Regions from separate parts of the Homo sapiens genome. Here regions 2 and 3 are each reported to be linked to region 1. The links are microRNA targets in miRTarBase. Many come from high-throughput screens and were not tested one by one. Region 1 holds a microRNA gene; each other region holds the end of a gene's coding sequence. Distances are between the middles of the regions.

What was found. The annotated mature microRNA hsa-miR-1206 reads UGUUCAUGUAGAUGUUUAAGC and lies in region 1 at 3,409-3,429, opposite strand. An mRNA with a match to its seed (bases 2 to 7 or 8) in the 3' UTR can be bound and repressed. Matches are read on the target gene's strand: a 7mer-m8 pairs with bases 2 to 8, a 7mer-A1 pairs with bases 2 to 7 and ends in A, and an 8mer does both.
Region 2: miRTarBase lists SLC7A2 as a target of hsa-miR-1206. Seed matches in the 3' UTR shown: 7mer-m8 at 2,507-2,513 and 7mer-A1 at 1,964-1,970.
Region 3: the mRNA of MTCL3 is a reported target of hsa-miR-1206. The part of its 3' UTR that is shown has no 7-base or 8-base seed match.

The regions. Positions count from the first base shown.
Region 1 is chr8:128,006,583-128,012,329 of GRCh38, reverse strand. MIR1206 (microRNA 1206) reads right to left here and starts at 3,432; the gene lies at 3,374-3,432. PVT1 (Pvt1 oncogene) reads right to left here. Exons shown (of 9, transcript NR_190187.1): 5 at 2,612-2,740; 6 at 1,886-2,012. It also overlaps the pseudogene RNU4-25P.
Region 2 is chr8:17,564,102-17,569,276 of GRCh38, reverse strand. SLC7A2 (solute carrier family 7 member 2) reads right to left here. Exons shown (of 13, transcript NM_001370338.1): 13 at 1-4,327. The coding sequence ends at 4,131. Among named protein-coding and RNA genes, the nearest start is that of PDGFRL, 11 kb to the left of the region's middle.
Region 3 is chr6:127,469,050-127,474,224 of GRCh38, reverse strand. It overlaps MTCL3 (MTCL family member 3), which reads left to right. Exons shown (of 7, transcript NM_001400265.1): 7 at 834-1,251. The coding sequence ends at 944. SOGA3-KIAA0408 (SOGA3-KIAA0408 readthrough) reads left to right here. Exons shown (of 13, transcript NR_174482.1): 7 at 834-1,145. Among named protein-coding and RNA genes, the nearest start is that of KIAA0408, 12 kb to the right of the region's middle.

The DNA of each region.
Region 1 (5,747 bases):
AATATTATTTCCACCTTGGAAAAGACTGAGTAGAGTAAAGAGTACAGTAGAGACCCAGGTCCAAGCCTGGCTTGGCCTTTCCTAGCAAGTCTAGAAATGACTCTGCCCATGTATTCCTCTTCTGCCAACCAAGGTACCACAATAGCTCCTTCATGCATCCCCCTCATTCAGCAAATGTGTATTGAATGTCAACTCTAATGTTTTGATATAAATCATGGGAGCTAATGTACTCACAAAAATGCTTTGGAAATTTTAATGTGCTCCACAAATAAGAGGGAATCGTTTCTGTTTGTAATGATTCACTGTGAGCTCACAAGTCCCAAAGACTAAGTGACCTTATGGGGTCGCATCACAGTGCAATGCTTGGATCCTTTCAGCCCCACCCCCTCTCAGTAGTAATACAGTCCCTGTGTGGATATCTCCAGTGATGAGATCCCAACCACTGTCAGAGACAGAGCATTCTCTCAGGTTCCTTTTCCTTTTATTAAGTTGCTTTCTGTTTGCCTACTGTTTCTACCTTTCCATTTTGGTTCTGATCTTTGGGGCCACAAGAAGTATATTTGACCTCTTCTCAGCCTTTCACTAATTGAATATCACCACCATCAAGGTCCAGTCTCTACCTCCTAACTCCTCTCCACATCTTCTCTCTGTGAAGCTAAGACGGCCCTAGTTTCCTTGTATTTCTCCATTTGGAAGGCAATAATAGACTGCACCAGACTGGGTGGCTTAAATAATAGAAAATTCATTTTCTTACAGTTCTGAAGACTACAAGTGCAAGATCAAGGTGCTAGTATGGTCTGTTCTGATGAGGGCCCTCTCCTTGCATTGTGGATGGCTCCCTTCTCATTGTGTCCTCACGTAGCAGAGAGAGAAGAGAGACAGTAAGCTCTCTGAGGTCTCTTATTTTGAGGGCACTAATTTCATCACGAGAGCCCCACCCTCATAATCTCATTTAACCTGAATTATCTCCCAAAGGTCCACTTCTTAATACTGAGTACATGGGGGTAGGTTTCATCATATACGTTTGGAAGAAGGAAAACAGTTCAGTCCATAACACTCCCCCACAAAAGATTATCTTGCTAAACAGAAGCAAATCTGATTGAGACATTGACTAAGTACCCACCATGCTTACAAAACATGACTCGTATATGCTGAGGAAATCAATTTGATTGCCCTACCATCAAGACACATATAGTCTAAAGATTGTTGCCATCTACATTTTAGAGGTCCCCGCACCTTAAGACAGAATGAGCCAGAGGCCTGGGTAAATTTGGAATTTACAAATAGAGTCAAAGAAGTCAAGGCAAGAGAAAAACATAGCCCCACCCTTTCATTAGATTTTATTCTAGAGATTAAGACTCCTAAACCAAAATCACAAAATCTCAACCCATTCACTGTTGACTGATTGCCTTCTTTGGACCATGCTGCAGAAATCACAGCAGCAATAAACACGGCAGGCAAATGTGTCAACCCCTGGGGAACTTTAACTTGTTTTCTGCTGTTGTAGTGAGATCAAGTGTGTGTGATTCAACAAGACGGGACATGTGAAACTTCCCTGTACCCCTCAAGCCCAGCACAGAGCCTCATCCAGAGTAGATGCTCAATGATGACACCTTATAAAACAACAAATAATAGCCAAGACCTCTCCTAAGTCTGCTGAGGGGTAGCCACATGGCTTCTTAAAAGTCAGAGGCCATTTGCTATTAAAGAAAGCCATGAGCTTTGCGCAGTGGCAGTATCGTAGCCAATGAGGTTTCACCGAGGTGCGATTATTGCTAATAGAAAGCCACAGATGGTCCTGGAGACCAGAGCCATCAAAACCCTTGTTCTTGTGCGGAAAAGAAGGCAAACCAGGGACCGAACTTGGCTTTTGAAGATGACTCACCACCAAAATCCCAGGTCTTGATGACAGGTTAAATCTTGTAAAACTTTAATTTGGCGAAGAAGTTGGCTGCTGTATTACTCTGTCACATGTCTTGGGAGAGGTCCAGTTTCTGTCACCCTAGCATTAACTGAAAAGCGGGATGAAATATGAAGACATTTTGCAGTTTATAAGAGAAAAGCACCAGGGAGTTTTAACAATTTGGAGAAGTATCATCCTAAAATTGGACTCTAATGGTCACTGAAACCATTGCTGCATTCAGTAAAACTGGGTTGCCTAAAGCTACTGCCATGGAGAATCTAAAACAAGACATAAAGAGGCAGGAATCAGTCACATAGAGGCTTGATGTACAATATGTCCAATGAAGCTTCCACCGGAGAACTGAAAAGCAGTATCTCAGCAGAATTGCAACTTCTGATTTTAGGTTCTTGTCAATCTATTCTAACTCTTAGCAAAAGATTCTTGCTGTTCAGCCTCAGAAACACTTTTATCTTAGTCGACTTTCCTGAAATCATGCTGTATTGAGCTATGATTCTTACTCAAATGTAGTTCCTATGTCAGAATCTCATCAATGAGAAATTTCGCAAGATTGCGTGCCAAAATATCCAGTACCACACTTGCATATTTTTACTTCAAACAGAATTAACACTGCATCTTAGACACAGCGTGGTTTACCCTGCTAGTCATCTCAAACACTGAAGACGGTGACTGTACTACATGATTATTTACCTGCTCAGCTCAGGTTCCCATTGTTCACATTCACATCAAGACAGATCAGCACTGGCACAACCACTGCTTTTATTGGGTATATCAAGTGTTAACAGATCCTTCAATGTGTTTCTCAAAATCTCTGTTGGCCTATGGTAAAGAAAAATAAAATCTATTTTGAAAACTCACAGAGCTCTAGTTAAAGGTTCATTTAATACCACCTATATGTCTTTAATGTCTTTAGACAGAAAAAAAAAAAGCTTTACAGTTCAATTAATGTTTCCCCTTTGGGTGCAATTTAACAGGGAGGGCTTCAGAAAAAGAATGAAAGAGGGCTATTAAACACATTTCTTATATAAAGATACTTGTTCTTATGCAGGACATATAGAATAGGACTTTTTTGTAGCAAATATTTTAAACAAGAGATATTTTGTTATGTGATGCTTTTTTAGCTGCAGCTAAAACAATTTTTAGTCGTGGAAATTCTGAAAAGCTTGTCATTTCTTTTATTATACTTACTAGAATATGATTACTTTTGTTGAAGGACAATATTTTCCCCTCTTTTCCTTACCCTGTGGCCCCCAAAAATGTTTCTGCTAATGATATAAGCAGATTTCTAATACTTTATCTGCTTTTAATCTATGAAAATTAATATTTGGATACTTCATAATTATCTTGATTATGTCACTTGATAAAACAGTGATAGGTATTAATGTTAGTTCAGCCATATATTTATACTGCCTGGGAATAGGTGGCTGCAATTGTGTGGCGAGCATAATTTGGCAGCGTTCACTAGCTTGCAAAAACCTACTGCAAGAGCTTAAACATCTACATGAACACTGATATGAAAAAAGCATGTAAGCCTGACCATAGCTTCTAGTTCCTAGATGGACCTGGCTGTGTTTTTCAGGCCCCAACCTGCAGGGAGCCCCTTCAATCTCATCAGCTGAGTGGGCAGAATAAAGACATCATGCCTGCACATGCTTAGCATTGTGCCCAGCATGGTCAGGGATTGATAAAAACACTTGTGTATTCTCTTTTTATTATCATCACCACCATTATAATCATTACTGAGAGATGCATCCGTAGAGACATCATGTCAGAGAGAAGCAGAGGAACCCAGAAGGCAGCAATGAAACTAACATTTAGAAGCAACACAGGTGATGGGGCAGCCCAGAAAGCTGAAGACAGAAACCATTTCGGAGAATTAGCTGCAAAAGAAGTAGGGAACAGGCATGAGAAGGGGACAGTTCTTTCTGGAGCTAACTCAGTGAACACACCAGAGCCTGTGGGAACATACATTTTTGCATCAGTTTCCTCATTGATAAATTGGAAGAAAGGTACATGGTAGAGAAGGTTACATTAGTCGATATTTGTAACAAGTCAGGGCACATAACAGGCCCTCACTCAAGAGAAGACACTTTTGTTCTCACATCTCCCTTCTTAAATTAAGGAGCATCTGCCCTGTATACAATCCTGCACAAAAATAAATCCACGTAAACAAAATTTCACAGTAACTACAAAAGCCTAATGATCATTAAAAATTCCTGGGAGAAACAGATGACCGTTCACTAATTAATCGGGTTTAGATAAATCAAGCACCACTTAAAGAATCACTGCTCCTTAAAGAGGTAAATGCAACGATTGTCACATGGCCAATTTCTAATTTTTCATTTCTCTGGGGAGACCAAAATGATACAATCTTAGTAATAAATTTCTCCCTAAAGTTTCTGAGGACAAACAATTTCCAGCCTCCTCAGACAAAGGTAAGATGAGTCAACTAGCATTACTGTCAACAAGTATGAAATGTAGGCCACCTTTGTGTCTACAACTAACATACTTTGTTAAGGATCAGATGTAGGACAGTGGTTTGTGGAGTGAAAATTAGGTGGGTGTCCACTGGGCAAGACATTGCACAGCACTGCCTGTGCTGGAAAATGCAAAAGAGAATAAGCTGGATGGGAGTACATCAAACCTAAACCTACACGTGTAGAATCACACTCATGCATACAACCCACATTCTTACTGTTTTCCCATTATCAGGAGACATCAAAAAGTAAAAGGTGTCTCATACCTTCCAAACACATTTCCCAGAAATGTCTGTTAACAGGAAGTACATACCCTTCACAGAATTTCTCCCATGTGTAGATAAATATGTATGTGCACTATATTGTTCTGTCTTGCTCCTACAAAAATGGGCCAATTCTATACAAATGGTACTACAACTTATCTTTTCCAATTGATTGTGGACACCATCCCATATTAGTACATATAAATCTATCTCATGGTTTGTATTTAGGTTTTTTTTTTTTAGTTTTTATTTTAAAATAATTTCAGATGTACAAAGTAAGAGTTTAAAAAACTGAGAAATTCCATTTAGCCTTGCAACTTCTCAATTTTGACATCTTATATACACAGTACAATTATTTAACTGTGTCAGGAAATTAACTTTAGTACAATACTATTGCCCAATCTAGCAATTTAATACAATATTATTGCTTAGTTGCTCAATCTAGAGACGATATTCAAATTTCATCAGTAACACTTTTTTCCAATGCAGAACGCAGCCCGCAGTCATGCGTTGCAGTTACAGTTGGAGCGTGTCCCTTCGTCTCTTTTAATCTGAACTCATTCCTCAGTCATTCTTTGTCTTTCATTTTTAAAGAGTGCTGATCAGTTGTTAACTAGAATGTCACTCCATTTGTGTTTGCCTGATATTTCCTCCTTGTTAAATTCAGGTTATAGTTCTGTCAAGGATAGCACAGCAGCAATGGCTGATTCCAGGGCTGGACCAGGCAAAGTGTACACTGAGCCTAGAATATCTTGTGGGGTCAAAAGGTAAGGCAGTGCTCAAAAAACAACAGTAAAATGGCAAAAATACATAGAACCCAACTTGAAGGGCATCCCAATGTAAAATCTAGAAAAATCTGAGCACAAAATGTATTATAGTCATGGGTTATAACCAATATAATGAGAATCCAAGAGTCCAGACTGATTTTTAAAAAATTGCATTTTTTCAATATAAAAGAAAATATCTTCCTTATAGTAACATTTTAATTGACAAATGTAGGAGTAATGATGGAAGTAGAAAATCACTGTTTGGCACACACTGTAGTAATAACTGTTTCAGACAAGAATTATCCACGAATGCTAAAAT
Region 2 (5,175 bases), 110 Mb from region 1:
GCCCTGCGGAAACTGTATTTTTTGTGGTAACAGTTGCTTGAAGCGTATTAGGAGAAATCATGAGCAGTATCACCGGAAAGGGAGAGTCAGAATCTTGGCATGATTTCATCACGCCAAGGTGTGATGTTCTGTAATCTCGGAACACACCCTGATTTAAGAGGAGGGAAGGCAAGGCTCAAGTGCTCCCTCTGTCATCATGGGTATTGGAGGCCGATGGCTTTTCCTTATGCTTCCTGCTAAGCATTTAAATAAATTTAGAAAATAGGTAAAAATAGATTCTAATTAAAGTGTTTTATTTTTATTTTTATTTTTTTTGAGGCAGGGTCTCACCGTTGCCCAGGCTAGAGTGCAGTGGCGTAATCTCAGCTCACTGCAGCCTCACTCTCCTGGGCTCAAGCGATCCTCCCACCTCAGCACCCCCAGTAGCTCTGACTACATGTGCATGCCACCATGCCCAGCTAATTTTTGTTTTTTTTGTAGAGACAGGGTCTTGCTATGCTACTCAGGCCGGTCTTAAACTCCTGGGCTCAAGCGATCAGCTTGCCTCGACCTCCCAAGATCCTAGGATTATAGGTGTGAGCGAGCCACCATGCCTGGCCTTAAAATTTTTTTAACAACTACCTGTAAGCACTCAGGACTTAAAAAGTATTTTGACTAATATTTAAAATTTTAAAGTTTTTAAAAATTTCTTTTATTCATAGAAATTAAAAGAAAACAAATAGTCTCTTATTTTTTAAAGGAGGGTAATTCTGAAACTAATATTTTCTATCAACTACGGCTGGTGATGGTAAAGTTCTATATATTAATGTTACTTTTTCATATATATCTCTCTTAAATGACACTTTGGCTTTCGTTCTCTCAATGTTTATCTCTGGGGAAAATGTGATTAAGATAATCAGTATTTTAGTATATATCAAAAGTTCTAATATAAGTTTTCCTCATAGTTTTTAACAGAGTTTGCATAGCTCTATTCTTAAATGTAGGACTGCCATTGCCTTTTGGTGGTAATTCACAAATTATTGTTTTTTTTTAAGAGTATAAAATTTGAGGTGCCATTACAAGAAATTCTCACTGAAAATGTTGAGAATATATTTCTTAATGTAGAAAAGAAAAGTAATTTAAGCTGCTTTTACTCAATCACAAAAGAATTTGCATATGTATTTCTTAATTACTGGAGAAGACTTTATATAATTTTGATTGATTACTAGTCAAAACTCTACAAAACATTTAGGTAATTCTGAGAAAGAAAAAAAAAATTTAGTTGAAAACATTATGAATTCACAAGCAGAAACAGAAAGGTGCCAAAGAGCTGGTGATACTGACTTTTGCTAATAAACACCTACCAGGACAGATCAGTCGGAAAAGGTGTGGCAGCAGCAAGTAAACAGGAATCCCCAAATGCCCCTACCTCTTCTCCATTCCAGATTACAAAGCACCTGCTATAATGTACTAGAGTTTAGTGATTTCATATTAGAAACATTATAAATACGTCTTAAAGAGTCTATAGGAAATATACATATAAAATCATAGTATATTTTAAAATAGTTTAAAAACTAAAAATTAGGTATAAGCATATCTATCAACATCAAACATCAATTTTTCTCCACATCAGTTGGGTTTTGTACCCACCTAATGACATAGTCAAAGCCCACCATAAACCCAACTTACTTATACACTGACGTTAGAGATACACACACACAGATATATATATACACTCATACAAACATATGTAACTGTTAACAAACATACAAACACACACATCCGTTGAGTCTTCACAGAAAAAAAGGCACAGTGGCTGACAAAGCATCTTTTCATAGATATTTGTGTCTGCAAAGTGTTTCAATGTGGAAAAATAATTTTTCACTAAATTCTGCTTCAAATTGAGCACAGTGGGCATAACAGTTTTAGCTGCCTATCACATTCTAAACAAGTTTCTTGGTTTCGTTACAGTAAAAGATTTGAGTGTTCATATATAACAATTGTTCACATTTCCTGTGTGAAGGGTCTATTCTTGATTGGGTATAGAATCAAACGGGTTTTCAGCGTACTGTGACAACAGCAAGGATTTATGAGCATGCCTACAGTCCCTACCAAAATACCCGAGCCTGTGCTTATCCAACTCCTTCTCTCCAGTAAACCACGCAGCTTGAGAGAAAATTCTGGGCTTCAGATTTTACCATGTGCACCCTGGAAGTTGTGGAATGTCCGTAATGAGTTCTGTGTCATGGATGCTATAACGCTAGCAGCCAGAAACCCAGGCTTTCTACCTGTTTCTTTGATGTTTAATCACAATAAACTCCTGGCTATACAAAACCATCGCAACTTGCTTTTTAATGGCATCAATAAAATAGCTCATTTCTTGGAAGACCCATGAGGAAAACGAATGTTTTCCTTGTCTTGGGATTACACGGGCCAGCTAGCATGCCTGGTAATGTTCACCATGCTGTCCTGGGAAATGTCACCCAGCCTCATCCAATGAACTATTTAATGATTTGTACGAGAAATAGTTCATGAGAAGCAAATACACTGCAAATAAACAGTCCACTATTAGGGAATCCTAAAAAGTAAAATATGACAATTAGAGAATCTTACATGTAAAAATTTGTTTACTCATTTACAAGGGTTAACTGTGTTTATATAGCTTTAATTCAATTTGATTCTTTTTAGTTTCCAGTTTTAAATAATCATGTTTTTTAAACCAAAATGTTTGATTCCCCAATCACTGATGGGTTATTGTATAACACTGGAGCTTGTATTATTAGGCTTAGTGTAGTCATTTGAAAGCAAATGGAATAAAAAGTGCTACACAATTTATGGGGTAGGGGGAGAAAAATATTCCTAAATGTTTCCAAAGGAAACATCAGAGGCAAATTAGATCCAAAGCCCTTAAATTGGGCCATTTGCCATTTAACAATGGAACAGGCCGTTCCTATCAGAACAGGGGGATTTTCTCTTCTTCTATCCCTTCATCTTTCCCTCTTTGCATGATGCTGCTGTAGCCCCCTCATCTCTAAGACAAGACAAAAGAAACAGAGAAACAAAGAAGTGAACTCTGGGCCTGACGAGGTTAAGAAAAAAACTAAACTGTGATTAAGTAAGTAATGGAAAAAGGAGGAATCATTCCACTAGTTGTGTGGTCTGGGAGAGTCTGTTGGCTTATTTTAAGTCACTTTTTAGAAAAGGATGCTTGGGGTCTACTTATTCAAGCATTGGTCTAACTCTTTGATCTTCAAACATATTCTCATTACGGCCACTCCATGAGCTTTCTGGCCCTGGTGACTATCTTCACTTTTTAATTTAAAGGGTCCCAAGTATATCACAGTGCCTCTCTTAAGTCCCTGACTGGGGATACGTCATTCACAGCAAGTGAAGACCTCGTATTTTAGGACCACTGTTTGCAAAGGAGACAAAAGTTCAAAAGGATGCCAACTAGTGGCATGGAATGCCACTCCTGGCCTGTGTAGTGCAGCAGAAGCAGACACCCCTGTTGGCTGAAGTTTGAGCAAACTGTCATACCTCACAGGAAAAAAAATTTGCATTAAACCCACTGTTGGCATTCACAACTTATTGAAAAGTCTCTTTCCTTATCCCCTCATCTTACCCCTAACCAGTGACAGACACCATGATGAGTAACTGCATTTTTGGCATCCCCTAAACTGACATTAATGAAGTCAAACAAGGTAAAGCTACTAGTATTTCCCCAACTGCAGGGGGCATAGATGAAACCTCTTTACATTCAGTGATTTCCCTCTATTTCAGTATGTGCAGTATATGCCACCGATTAATGACGACACTGGAAAAATGTAACACAATAATAGTAAAACACCAGCTAACTTGTAACACTCATGTTCCCAAGCATATACATAGATACATACATACACACATACATACACACTCCCACTGTTTGGGGGCTATTCATCACTGATGAATGAAACTTCCACTCAGGAGGTTTCCCCGTGCACATAATTCACCATCTGAGGAGATGCTGTCCAGATGAGTAAGTATAAATTAGGGTGAACTATGTATGCAGCAAACCCATGACAACCCAGCATGCTGATGACATCCCGTTACGGTTTACTCAGTGTAGGATATGTATGCTAAGACGATGACCAGCTCTGCTCCTGCAAGTGTTAGAATTCACTTGTCTTTTCATGGAATATGAAAGGTGAACTGAGATTTCTTGGGTGATGGTCATTTGCTTGAATGGCAGATTTTTCTTCTGCTGCTGCATGAACGTTGTCTGGATAAGCATCTTCTTCATTGTTTTCATCTCTCAGATGACCCTCCAGGCTGTGTCTAATGCCATAAGAAAAGTAAATCAGGAAGCCTGTTGGGGCAGGAAAAAAAAAAATCAATGTTTCAGGTATGTCAGAAAATGACTTTTAAGTTATTGAGGTGGAAAATGTAGAACTTAATAGAGTTTGTCTCTTTCCTTTCTGTAGTACTTTAGAACGGGGGTCACCAACCCCTGGGCCACAGACCACTATTGTTAGGAACCAGGCCACACAACAGGAAGTGAGCAAGCAGTCTCTAGTATTTACAGTGTATTTACAGCCACTCCCCATTGTGAACATTACCACCTGAGCTCTGCCTCCTGTCAGAGCAGGGCAGCATTAGATTCTCACAGAAGGGACTGCACACGTGAGGGATCTAGGTTCCATGCTCCTTATGAGAATCTAACTAATGCCTGATGATCTGAGGTGGAATAGTTTCATCCCCAAACCATCCCCCACCCTGTCCATGGAAAAACTGTCTTCCACAAAACCCGTCCCTGGTGCCAAAAAGGTTGGGGACCGCTGCTTTAGAAGAATGAAATGCAAATGTAAGATACCCCACAGAAGGTGTCCTTGATCAATATTTTCCTGGTAGAATGTGCCTCTCTATTGTGAAGACCCAAACTTTATAGACTGTATTTTGCTCTCAACAAGTTTTTCAATGTTTATATGGAAAAATTTTAATTGATGTTCTTAGAAGTCAATACTGTACTTTAAACAAAATGATATGTGGAATAAAGTCTCAAATTATACCCTAAATACAAGTGGTGAGTTATCAGAGTCAAGATCAGATATTTTGCAAAGTACACTCTGTATTAACAAAGAGGACACGGACATGCTTTACACGTGTCACTGTCACCAGGAGAGTCCGAAGAACTGTATGCAAAGCAACTGTTTATTA
Region 3 (5,175 bases), not on the chromosome of region 1:
GTAAAGAGACATGGTTTTGTGTCTACAACCCCCTGGAAAGGAACAAATGAAAGCCACTTTTTTTTTTTTACCATAAGTTGAAATAACATGATCATTATTTCCAGAGAAAATCACTCTCAGTTGTATAGTGGAGAATCTCAGGACTGGGGAAGGAGTCTATACGGTAGCTTGAAGGCAACACTAATTCAGAGAAATAGTAATAACTATTCCAGAACAGGGAAAACCAGCATTTTTCCTCCATCCTGATTTGTAGAGGCACACCGGATGAATTGGACTGAGCTGCTTTGGCCAGGTATGGTGGCCATTTAAAGACCAATGCATTTTGTCAGAGTTAACCACATGAAAGATAATTTATGAAACAAAACAGGCAATGCTGTTTCCTCTGGCAAGCCTGGTGTCCTGTATCCATTGGAGAACCCACGGAAGTACAACAGCATGCATGGCTTTTAAGACACGGAAGACATTTAAAAGCCAGTTTACGTACAGAAGCATGGTTTTAGATTAACTGCCTGTTGGTACAGCTAGAAACATTGCAGCCCTATCGCTTATTTATCTTGCATGTTGCTCTGCTTTGCTATGAAAAATATCGTTTTATGATAAAACTTGTTGAATTTTGATATGTATTCGGTTATACTCTTAGGGAAAATAATAGAAATTAGAGTGAGAGAAAGTGCTATGTATATTAGGCTTTCAGATTTTATAGATATAGGCTTAAGGGAGGGTGGAGGTTCTTTTTTAAGTTGAATGACTACTTAAATTTGTTGATGTGAATTTAAGTTTTAAAGATTATTATTAATTAACTCTTCTCTTTGTCTTTGCATTTACCTTCCCAGATGTTCCAGCCTATCATTTTACTTATTCTCATTCTTGTATTATTTTCATCACTTTCTTACACAACAATATTTAAACTTGTCTTCCTTTTTACACTGTTTTTTGTACTGTAAATCTTTCATCATTTACCATTCATTGTAGTATTTTCAGTTTGTTTATTTTGTTCACCCTTCAAGACAAGAAGTAAAAGAAGTATAATTTCTGTAGTAACCAATGCTATAAAAACACTGAAGACTGCTTATTTCTTTAAAAAGATACAACTCATCTTACCAAGACCAAATTCAATAAGAAGCCCAAACACTAAAATATTTCAGGTAAGAAAGTGTGACATTTTTCTGTATGAATTGTTTTAATTTTTACTTCTTTTTTTCATCCTGTTTGTCTCCTCTTGATAAATAATTGGCATACTGAATATAAAAATGGACTACATGTCTCATAATTATTTCTCAGTAGTTCACTATTATTATTCAAAAGCTGGACGGACATTCACAATTTGGTCACATTTCCAAAAAGTATATACATTTGTAAAGTATCTTTGCCAGGTTGCATCAAACTAACAAGATAATTTTGACATCCAATAAATATCTGAAAAAAAATATGGGAAATAAATGAAATGTGACCCTCATGAAAACTAAGTAATATGTCGTAATGCCAATGTGTTTTGTCTACAGAGATATGCTTGGAAGCATGAGATTGGATTAGGTCTTAGTTCATTTAGGAAATAATTATCCCTATCCTACTCTATTTGACCAGATTCCCACCAAACCTGCCACTCCTGCTTTTACTTATTATACTTGAAGTCGTGTATTGCTAATCGAACTTATTGCTTAGAGTCCTATCCTCTATAATAGATTGCCTCCAGAGTAGGAAATACTCTATAAATATGATATGTGAATTGTTTTGAATAGGGAAAAAATACAGTCATTCTCTAGAATTTCATTAAAGTATGGTCATTTTCTAGAATTTCATTAGATCACAATCCAAGACTGGTAGCATAGTTCAGGCAGGAGGTGCTCTCGAGATATAAACTAACTTCAATAAACCTGAGCATCCCCCTTTCTCCTCAAACCTAAAGTGGCCTGGATAGACTCCATCTACCCAAAGGACCCATTCTGTCCATCTCATTGATAGTTTATCCAGTGCCACCCAAGAGTCAGCAATCTCCGCACTTGTTGAAGTCACATACTTGTAAATATTCACAGGTTGGTTGACGGATATGAAAATCTGTGGAAAGTGAAGTATCTTGCATGTCTGCAAAAAGGATATGTGGAAAAACTTTGTTATAAAAGTTGCTATTGGTAATGGTCCTTGGAATCCCAGGAATTTAACTTTCAAGGGACTATAATTTATTTATAGTCTCATCCTCCCACACATCCGTTTGAGTATTAATTAAACAAACAAACAAACCTTCACAATAGTCTAAAACTTTAGTTTAGAATAACTGCTCTTACTCTCTATAGGATTTGTTTGGTTTTGGTTTTTGGTTCTGTTTGTTTTTTGACGGGGAGGAGAGACTTGGAGTGAGGAGTGGTTACCCAACAGTTGGAATCTGTCAATATGCACTTCTGGCTTTTCATTTTAGAGATTCTGAGAGCTAGGTAAAGCTTCATTACAAAAATGAATGAAATGAGATAAATGCCATGTTTAATCAATTATATATAATTCAGGTGTTTGCTTTTTAAAATTTTTTCATCTCAGAGATAACAAACACTTTAAAACCTAAAGTTTGTCTGTTAGATCCGTGATAAGTTTCCAGGCCACCATTTCAGGAACTGAAAGTAAATGTTTGAGGGCAGAAATGTAGCTGAAATATTTATCATCTTTGGAGCCAGTTATACCTGTTAAAAGGTTCTCAGCCACCTACAGAGCATTTGGAAGTGTGTGGAGTGTTGCAGGTTATTACAATGACTGGGAAGTTCACTGGCATTTAGGAGGAAGGGATCAGAACTTCAAGGTCCCTGAAATCCCACATCACAAATAATTGGCTTGTCCAAATTGCTGATGTTGTCTTTGTGGAGAAACGTGATATGGTATGCACTTATTCACTTCAGAAGCATCATGCATATTCACCACCCTGTGTGACTTTAAGAAACTGGCTTTACATTTTAGCTTTCTTTATCATGAGAGGAATCAAAAATGAAATAACTAGATCAGTAGTTATCAACACTAGCTGCACATCAGAATTTCTGGGATGTTTTTATTTGGGGACCTACTCCATACTAATTGAAATAAAATGTACGGACCTAGGCATTTGTATTTTTAAAAATGCCCCAGAACCACTACTCTTAGATATTTGAATTATCTAAAATACACATTCTATATAGCCTCAACAAAGCTTACAGTAAACTATGTGATACCAAGATATAGGATCATTAGTTGTCTAGGTTTGAGTAGACTTTAAAGTTTCAGCTGCTCAGTGGATGTCTGAATTCTCTCTACAGCATTTCCACTTAGTTGTACAGCCTTTGCCAGAAGGGATATCACCTCCAGTGATAAAGCAATTATATTTCTGCGCTGGTGGTCGTGCCAGAAAACTTGGCTTGCATTAATACAAGTTTTCAAAAACACAAAATCAAAGGTAAATAGGAGTAATACCTAACAGAAAAGAGAACCAAGATGAATAGTGTGTGGGCACAGGGTCACACACCCACTGAAAGAAACAGGCATGTGTGCACACTGAATTCAAGACTCAAGATGATCCCACAGTGATCTAACATGTTATTACAACAAAATCCCTAGGCATTCTTAGATGGGCTGACAGCCTAAATATATGCAAAGATGGTGCAAACACCTCAGTGATAACTTATGACCTGAATAGGAAAGGAGAGATGTCTGAGCTAACCAAAACACCAGCCTCAACTATAGATCTCATTTTAGGAACTATGGTCATGTTCCCTATGTTGCCCTTCTGGCAACAGGGGTATTAATCTTACCTATGAACTCCTAAAGCAGTGATAAGGTTTGACTCTGTGTCCCACTCAAATCTCATCTTGAATTGTAATCCTCACAGGTTGAGGGAGGGACCTGTAATCCCCACATGTAGAGGGAGGCAGGTGATTGGATCATGGGGGTGGTTTCCCCCATGCTGTTCTCATGATAGCAAGTGAGTCCTCACGAGATCTAATGGTTTTATAAATGTTTGGAAGTTCCTCCTTCACTCCTCTCCACTGCTGCCTTGTGAAAAAGGTGCCTGCTTCCCCTTCCACCATGATTGTAAGATTCCTGAGGCCTCCCTAACCATACAGAACTGTGAGTCAAAGCTCTTTCCTTTATTAATTGCCCAGTCTCAGGGAAGCTCTTTATAGCAGTGTGAAAGTGGACTAATACAGGCAGTTATTTTATAGAATTTCATGAGACTTAAACCTCATCCAGATCCTCCATATGTGAAACTCCTGTGAAATACTGGGGAGAGGAAAGTAGGCTGAAGCAGTACTGACTTGACTGCTGCTCACAGATTCTGGGGGATATGGGATCATTCCAACAGCTCCTCTGAAGTTAGTGAATCAACTTTACTGAACAGTTGAATTCCAGGGAGGCTCTTTTCCACTCTGCCCCACTCACTGCATAAACCAGCTTCCCGGTTGTGCCTGTGTGTACACACACAGCTCCATCACACTGTGGTGTATAATGAGAAATGCATCCAGGGTCAGGGCATTCAGAACTGCCTCTATCTTAGGGGACATGCTGGGGACCAGTTGGTGGAAGGTGGGGTCAGAAAATTGCCAGCAGGCACAAAGTGACCTTTTTCCTTGCCATCTTTTCCCTATAACTTCAAGCTGTTCAATGGGCGCCCAGTATCCAGGGTGCACCTATCTCTTAAAGCGTAGAACATAGACTTGGGAAGATAAGTTGACAAAGATGGTGCCCAAAACCTCAGAAAGAGAGTCCCCAGCATCTTCCCCTTTGATCCTGTTGCTTGCATTATTTTTGTTATATTAAGCTGTTTCTGAAAGAGGAACAACCAGGCTTCTTGATTCACCAAGAGAGCAAAGACTCTTAATTATTAAGACAAGGCGTCATCTTTTGTTTGGACCTTTGAAGCTGTGCTATTTAAACATCACACCAAAGTAAACTCAACAGAGCAAGCCTTATTCTAGAAAATTCCCTTGTATGCACATTCTTGGCCATAGGAAGAAGTGTCTTCTTGTTAATTTGGCCTAGATCTAAGAAAAAAGGAATTCAGTTGGCTATTTTTAGGCATAAGTAACTAAACTCATAAAACAAAGGAAAATTCAGTCCTGAGCCTGGAATGTGTTTTGGCCTGCATTCTCCAATCTTCACTTTAGTTTGTGTGATAGAATGGGATATGGTTATTTAATCAGCTGCCAACGAAGTTTGGAGTGT